2 linked regions of the Homo sapiens genome follow. The protein of the gene in region 2 purifies or fractionates together with the protein of the main gene of each other region. This does not show direct contact. Each region holds a gene or a part of one and is shown on either strand. Other genes may lie near its edges.

Region 1 (2,854 bases), on a different chromosome or scaffold from region 2:
GGGAAGAAAATCAGGTTAGGACGACGGTGTGCAATGAAGGGAACCCCTGTAAACAGAATTCGTGGGTTATGAACAGCTCTAAATACACTGTTCTACACTAATTTTTCTGAATTATCTGTAACACTTCACTAAGCCTGAAATTACTACACAGTCTAGTATAAGGTAGGGGTGTTATGAAGAATAAAGGATGAAGACAGTAAAGGAAAGTGGGGCCTACCCTGCAGAAACTCTCCCCTTGCCCCAACAGTCTCCTTTCCATGGGGATGGCATCAGAGTTCCAGGAGAGAAGAGAGCAGGGCACATGTTGGGGCCAGGAGCATGCAGAGGCACCCATGAGAGGCACTCACGTACCTAGAAGAAGGCTGTCGTGGTCCCAGATTTGCTGGGGAGCACTGTTGGAAAAGGAAGGGATGGAGAGGGGAGCCCGGGTTACTTGGGAAACATTTTCTTCATACTTCTTCTCTATATCTACCTGCCTAGCCATGTGAGCTCACCAAGCACTTAAGAACAAACCCCAGTCCAGGATGAGTGTTCTGGTCTCCTCCTTCCAATAAAAAGTGATTATTGGCAGCTCTCACTTTAATGCCAGCTCACCAGGAAGTCAGCCCTAGTGAGGGCATGTGAGGACTATAGAAGGATTGGTGGTGTGGATTTCTTTTAAGATATTGCCCTTCACTCTCCTTCTCCACCATTCCCCCGATCCCCATTAGATAAGGGGTTTGTTAGTCAAACCATCAGGTAGAACATTTCAAAGGTCACAAGACAAAAGCAATTACCAGTACATTTTTGTTTCCAATTGCAGATTTATTTCCACACACACAAAAAAATCTATGTTGAAGTTACAGGATTGCCATGAATGCCACACACCTTTCAGACTAAGCAGAAAGCCCACAAGAAAAGCACAAAATGAATGCACTCAGCTGCCCCTGTCCCCCCCACCCTGGTGACTGGGGAAGGACAGGCAGAGCCATCTAACAGGGGAGCTGAGTCTTTGGGAGGATAGGAAAGCCCAGGGTCAAGGGAAAACAACACAGACACTACACAGGGGCTTTCAGTGAGACAGGGATAGATCACGCCGGTGGAAGGAAGGCCCTAGCGTCCCTGTTCTTGCCCAAGAATAGCACACCATTTGTGAGTTTGCCCACTGTGTTCCCAACATCAATGCACAGATACAATTCTACCAGCAAGATCACAGAAACATAGTAAGAGCAAAAGGCAAAGCAGTCTGGGATTATGGGTTGATTTTCAGCCCAAGACACAAAGCCAGCTCAGACTTCTGAATTTTTCCATCCTTGTTCACGTCGCAGTGACGCAGGAGAATCTCGCGGAACTTATCAAGGTCCACCCCGCTGATGCTGGGCTGAGGGCGACAAAAGTAACATGTTAACAGGCAAGCCAATGGTGTTCTCACCCTTTAACACCCTCTCTGATGCTCCCTAAGCTTAGGGTGTCCTGCCTTGAAGGAGACAGGCCACAGGGAGTGAGGGAATGAGTCTATCGCCTCATCCCACCAAATGCTGCCAAGGATAAGTTTTCTGCCAACAGCTTCATTTCTCAGCATGTCCCTTCAGGCCAAAAAACCTTTACTTCCACATCACTTCCCTGCAGTTCTTAGAAAAAGACTGCCTTATTAGCAACCATAGTAAAGATACTTTGCCGCAAAGTAGGCAATTATGATCATAAATTTCTGCCTTGCTGCACTGATGAGAGAAGACACATTTCATTATCTCCTTGTAGGAGATTTTTGTGCCTCTGGTTTAAAAAAAAATGGTTATACTGAATGTAAATTTAAAACATGTGGTTGAGCTAGGGATGTAATATTTACTCCAAGGGATATGTTAGGGGGCAAGAAAGAATGTTAGCTAGAAACGTGACACATGTTAGCTAGGAAAAGTTTTTTACTTCAAGCTCAAAGGCCTGCAAAAGTGAGGAATGCTTTAACAAATTGATTCTCCATAGGTTATTTCATGTAAGCTTCACAATAATGCTGGGAAGTAAATAATTCCACCTCTTTTACAAATTAGGAAACAGAGGTGCAGAGAAAGCTTAAGCTTCCTGCCAAGCTGGAAAGTTGTGGCAGCATTTTTGAGCCCAAGAATAGTCCAACAGTCCTCTGACAATTGGAGACAGTCCTCAATAGTCCTCTGATTCCAATTGAGTGCTCATTGCAAAATTTCATACCATTCTCATGGAGAAAAGGCTGGTCTAATGAAACTACATGTGTGCTGATGCATCTGTGAATAAACGTCAAAATCAAAGAGCCCATCCTTCAAAATGGATCTCACGTGGTTTACTGGCCCAAAATTTTTTTTTTTTTTTTTTTTTGAGACGAAGTCGCAGCCGTCCCTGCTGGAGTGCAGTGGCAGTGATCTCGGCTCACTGCAACTACCGTCTCCCGGGTTCAAGCGATTCTCCCATCTCAGCTTCCCGAGTGGCTGGGCTTACAGTCACCCGCCATCATGCCCGGCTAATTTTTGTATTTTAGTAGAGATAGGGTTTCATCCTGTTGGCCAGGCTGGTCTTAAACTCCTGACCCCTGGTGATCCGCCCACCTTGGCCTCCCAAAGTGCTAGGATTACAGGAGTGAGCCACCGTGCCCGGCCACTGGCCCTAAATTTAAAATAGATCCAAGTGGCCCTTTTTTGACTAGAGATGACAGCTTACTCAAGTACCCTGAAAACCAGCACCTTTTTCTTTTTAGGGCTTTCAGAGCTCACCCGAACCAACCAATCAGAACTCAGTTAAATTAACCAATCAGGACTCAGCTCTATTGACCAATCAGAACTTGGCTCCAATAACCAATCAGAACTAAGCAAGTTTGAATCCTTTATTTGCACAAACAGAACTAACTGGC
Region 2 (4,588 bases):
AGGCAGGAGAGACTCCAGCCTTCCCTTCCCACCCAACCCCTTCCTGCGTCTGACTTGTCCTCTCCAGCGCGTTATGAAGTATTGCCTATGGTTCCATCTGTGAGCAGACTTAGGGGGCTACGCTAATGACAGAGCGCTCTGGCAAGGCAGGATCTGGCTGCCTCTGCGGGGCCCACACCTTCCTCTGGAAGGGCTCGGGACAGAGATTTATTAACGAATCGCTTCTGCTTGGTGGTATGCGGTCTGGGAGTTCAGGCTAAGAGTTAATGAGAGGTGGGTAACAGTCAGAGGGTCTCAGTCAGACCATTCAACCGCAACTGCAAACCCCCATTAGTAATCAACTTTCCCACCACAAATCACGATTCATTTTTGCTCGGTGGCAAGTCTCTTAGGGAGGCAGGGGAAAAGGATTCTACTAACATTCCTGGTAATCTACCTGATTATTTCCCTTTCAATTAAAAATAATAATTTATACCTTTATTTCCTTCTCTTTGCGTAATGAGGATTTTCCAGAGATTCAAAATATTATTTTTCCCTTCGTGTTGAAAAGCAACCTCTTTCCCATAGAGAGGAAACCGAAATTATTATTTGGGTGTATTCCCAGACTAGATTTCTTAGAAATAAATACAGGAGGCAAAGCACAACTCCCACCACAGGGTGTATGCGTTGGGGAGGGGGGAGCGGGCATGTGGGGGAGTGGTGTTGGCTAAAGTACTGTTGTGACCTGTGATTTCTATACCAAAGGCACAGCGAACTCTGCCATAAAGGTTACACTGCCACAAAGTTGAGTGCCATCTTCTTTCCCTTTTCTCTGAATGGTTTATAATACAGAAATTAACGACTAATATAATTCAGGTTCATGTTAGTAAAAAAAAAAAGTGCTATTTCATAGTACCTGTTTGTTTTAATTTGTAGGGCAGATAGTTTCTTCATAGAGGAAGAGCAAACCATTGGTCCTTTTGAAACCCTTTTACAAACAGAACAACCTTAAATATCCACCAATGGCTCTTGCCACAAATAATTAGGAAGGTTAAATTTCCACACTCCCATTGAGTTGCTGGAAATGTATGTCAAAAGAAGTATTTTAAGTGAATGCAGAGATCCTAAAGTACTTTCGTTTTGTCTAGAGCTGAGCCTTGTAGTTCCCACACTCCCTTTCAGGAAATAACAGCGATCATCATCTGCTGTCATTTCTCCACCGTCCCGTTTCAGACCACTGGTTACTTTTAATCTTGCAAGGAAAGAAACTTAAACCAATGAAAAGTCATAAATATGTTGGTGGAGCTGAGGCTACTTTTCTTTCATCAGTCTTCTTCACAGGAATTTCCAGGCATGTGGAGAAATTTTGTAAAATTTACTTGACTGGCTGTCACCAAGGAAGATGTGTACACACTTATTTCAGTTCAGTGAAGCTTTCAAAACATTGGAGAAAAAAATTAAGAAGTAACTTGATAAGGAGTTTCGCTCTTTGGTAATGGTAATATTACACTGAATTATCTAAAAATAATATACAGTCAGGGTTCATCTGCTAAAACCTGTGCACTGGTATATGAGATAAATGACTGATGGTCGGATAGGTAGGCTCACTGAATTTCAGCCCAAACCACAGCAGAATTTTATATAAATTAGAGAGCTATAGACTAAGTAGATCAAAGAAGATCATTAAAAAGAAAAAAAATTGTTAAAGGACAGATTGTTAGGGCCAGACTGTATCAGGTGAATAGAGAAACGGCTGCGAAGTTCCTGCCCCTTCAGAGCGCCTCTGCCTTCCCAAGGAGTTAATTAAATTAAGATGCCTTCCGCATAATCTAGGTTCTGTTTCTCTGTGCTCCCCTTGCTCCCCCTGCGTGAGTAATTTTCTTGTTCTGCCCAGGACTGCAGTTTGTTTAGCAGAGAAAGTGGCTGTCTGCGCCCTTTCGCTTCGGGAAACGCCAGCCCCCTTTTGTTCTCGGCTAACAGGTAGGAAGACAGATCCGGGGCTCCCTCCACAAACACCTTTTCCTCGCTCCTTCTTCGTACAACTGCAACTCCTTTCTCACTTGCCGTTTCTCAGGAATCCGAGCGTTTAAGCCCCCGGGGAGTTTGCTTTTGGGCCCCCTCAGTCAGGACTAGAAGGTGGGAGGAGAATTTTAAAGCCAGCACGAGGTTGACAAATTACCGAGGACTGAACTATTTCCCTCTTGAAATGTGCCTTCAGCGTCGCTGGCTGGGCAGGCACCGGGTGTCCGGGCCCGTCCACGCTGCGCTGCCGCGGCTGCCCCGGGACAAGTCGACCCAGGCTTGCTAGGGCAGGAGCAGAAACACCATGGGATTGTGGGGTTTGATCTCAGTGTACGTAGACCAGCTTTTATAAGAAGTCTTGCTGACCGCTTAGATTAAATATCCCAAAACAAAATTAAGAAACAGTATGTAGAAATGTGTGTGGTTGGGTGTTAGCTGGGAGTCGCGTGCCAGGGACCCAAGGAAGTGAGAAATACAGTGCCCTGGGATTGCATCCCCATGATCTATTTTCACATCTGAATTTGGGGCACACCAGACCGAGAATCTGAACGCCTCTTACACCCCCAAACCCTTCCTTCCAAAGGGCAGCTACAGCCCCTTCCCAGAGCGAACACTCACCTCCCGCAGAAAGGTCAACCTGGGCAGCCGCGCTCAGACCCGGTCCAGGCAGCGAGGCGCACAGCTTGGAAAGGTCATTGAGTCCACGCCTGGCAAACTTTTTTTTCCGCGCGGAGTCGCAGGAGTCGCGGACATGATCTGGAGGACCGCGAGCAGCTAAAGCGAGAGCAGATCCACGTCTTCGTCAGAGTCTGTGGACGCGGACTGTGTAAAGACCCGGGGTGCTTGGGGCCGGCGTTCAGCGCTCGCCCAGAACCTCGCTCTTCGGCGAACCTCTCGCTGTCGACTCCCGGTGAGGTCGGAGCCCACAGCCTTGCAGGGCCATCACCCTCCAGCAGCAAGCACGCCGAGCTCCGTCCCCGCCCGCGTCCCTCCCCAGGCTGCCCCAGGCCGGGAGTCTTGGGCTTTAGTAGCGGCCCCGCCTCCCCTTCGGGCGGGCGTCCCGCCGCCGCGCGGGGCCCTCAGCGCCCTGGCTCCGCCTCCGCGCCCGGCGTCTGCTAATGGTCCACTCTGTTTACTTCTGTTTGGATAGCAACTGAGTCTTAAAGGCACAGGTTTGCTCGAGGTTTCCCTGTTATAGAGACGCAGCCGTAGGTGACTCAGTTCAAAACTCACACACAAACACAATACCCACCCCCTTTCTTCTCGTTGCCACTTTTCCTTATACCATTAGAAACTCAACAACTGCTTCTCTGCCTCTCAAAGACTCCACAGAGAATCCCAAAGGGCATTTAGTATTTTTATTTGGTTCGCTCGCCGGCTTAATTTGCACATCTTAACACATTCAATACAACTACCTTCACCGTAAAGTAAAATAATTCAGGTCTAGACTGCATTCTCCAGCATAAATCACTCTTTCCCCAATTTTAAACAGTTTTGTACATACTTTTGGTCAATTATGACTACATGTGTAGTCTGCTTTCGCCTGCTGTTTTCTAAACGAAGTTTGTTTACAGAGGTGGCAATTGACTAATTTAGTAATTATTGCAAAGACGCGTGGAATGCCCCAGGAGAAATTTCTTCCAATATTTAAGCTTTAATCGGCAAATGTTCATTTCATACGCAGTAAACCAACTTGGTTAAAACAGTGGGCATCTGCAACCCATTGGCAAAGAATAAAGAATCCATCTGGAATTGGTGAAGAACAATCATTTTTAAAATTTAGGAAAATGCGATTCTAGTTTTTCAAAACATTTACATCTTCATTCCCAGCAAAAATTGAGTTCAATGTTCAGTCTCCAGGAAAGTTAATAGAATTCAAAGTGCAGTGATACATTTTTCAGGTCCTTCTAAAGGTTTGGTCTTGTGTGAGTGTAACTGCAAAAAGCACTTCAACCTCTCTGGAATAGGGGTGACCGAGTGACAGGAAGGGAATGATACACACCCATTTTAAGCAGCTTCTTTTCAGATGTGATTTGCGTGATCAACACTAAGCAAAAACGCCCTTCGTCCCAGACGAGTTGCCAGAGGGGATCTGTGTTACTCCACGGCAAGCCCGCACTTTGAGGACGTAGATCTTCAACCAAGAGGCTGTACAATTCAAAAGTGTTCCGTCGAAAGATGGTTTTGAATGAGACGCCCCAAAGGACAATTCAAAAAATCTCAATCGTGCGGGGAAGTAGATAAATACAAGCAGAGGCTAAAAACTGTCAAAAGGTTAAGCAGTAATTGGGGAGTCAAGCAGAAGCTCCCAGATATTATTTTATTAAGATAAAATTCTTTCTATTTTATTTATGCCGAGGTGGAGAGAATTTTTCGTTCCTTTGGTAAAACATAACAGGGGTCGCAGATTTTTTTTCTGTCTTTCCAATTTTAAGTTCGCAAAGATTAAAAAGTGAGCTTGAAACGGAGATTCGAGTGTTTAATATCCTGCAGTACTTAACTGCTTCAAAGTAGATTTGACACACAGAATGGAAGCAGCAGAATGCCTAAGCATTCAGATTTTTTTTTTTTTTAACGTTTTGCCTGG

Evidence for each region.
Region 1: the proteins of OSR2 (region 2) and SCGN purify together in Homo sapiens (affinity purification with mass spectrometry; one large-scale study listed by BioGRID and IntAct). This does not show direct contact.

The regions. Positions count from the first base shown.
Region 1 is NC_000006.12:25,699,713-25,702,566, reverse strand, and holds the end of SCGN (secretagogin), read right to left. Parts: intron 1,361-2,854; coding exon 1,232-1,360; 3' UTR 784-1,231; downstream 1-783.
Region 2 is NC_000008.11:98,942,855-98,947,442, reverse strand, and holds the start of OSR2 (protein odd-skipped-related 2), read right to left. Parts: upstream 3,002-4,588; 5' UTR 2,620-3,001; intron 1-2,619. UniProt on the Homo sapiens protein: May be involved in the development of the mandibular molar tooth germ at the bud stage.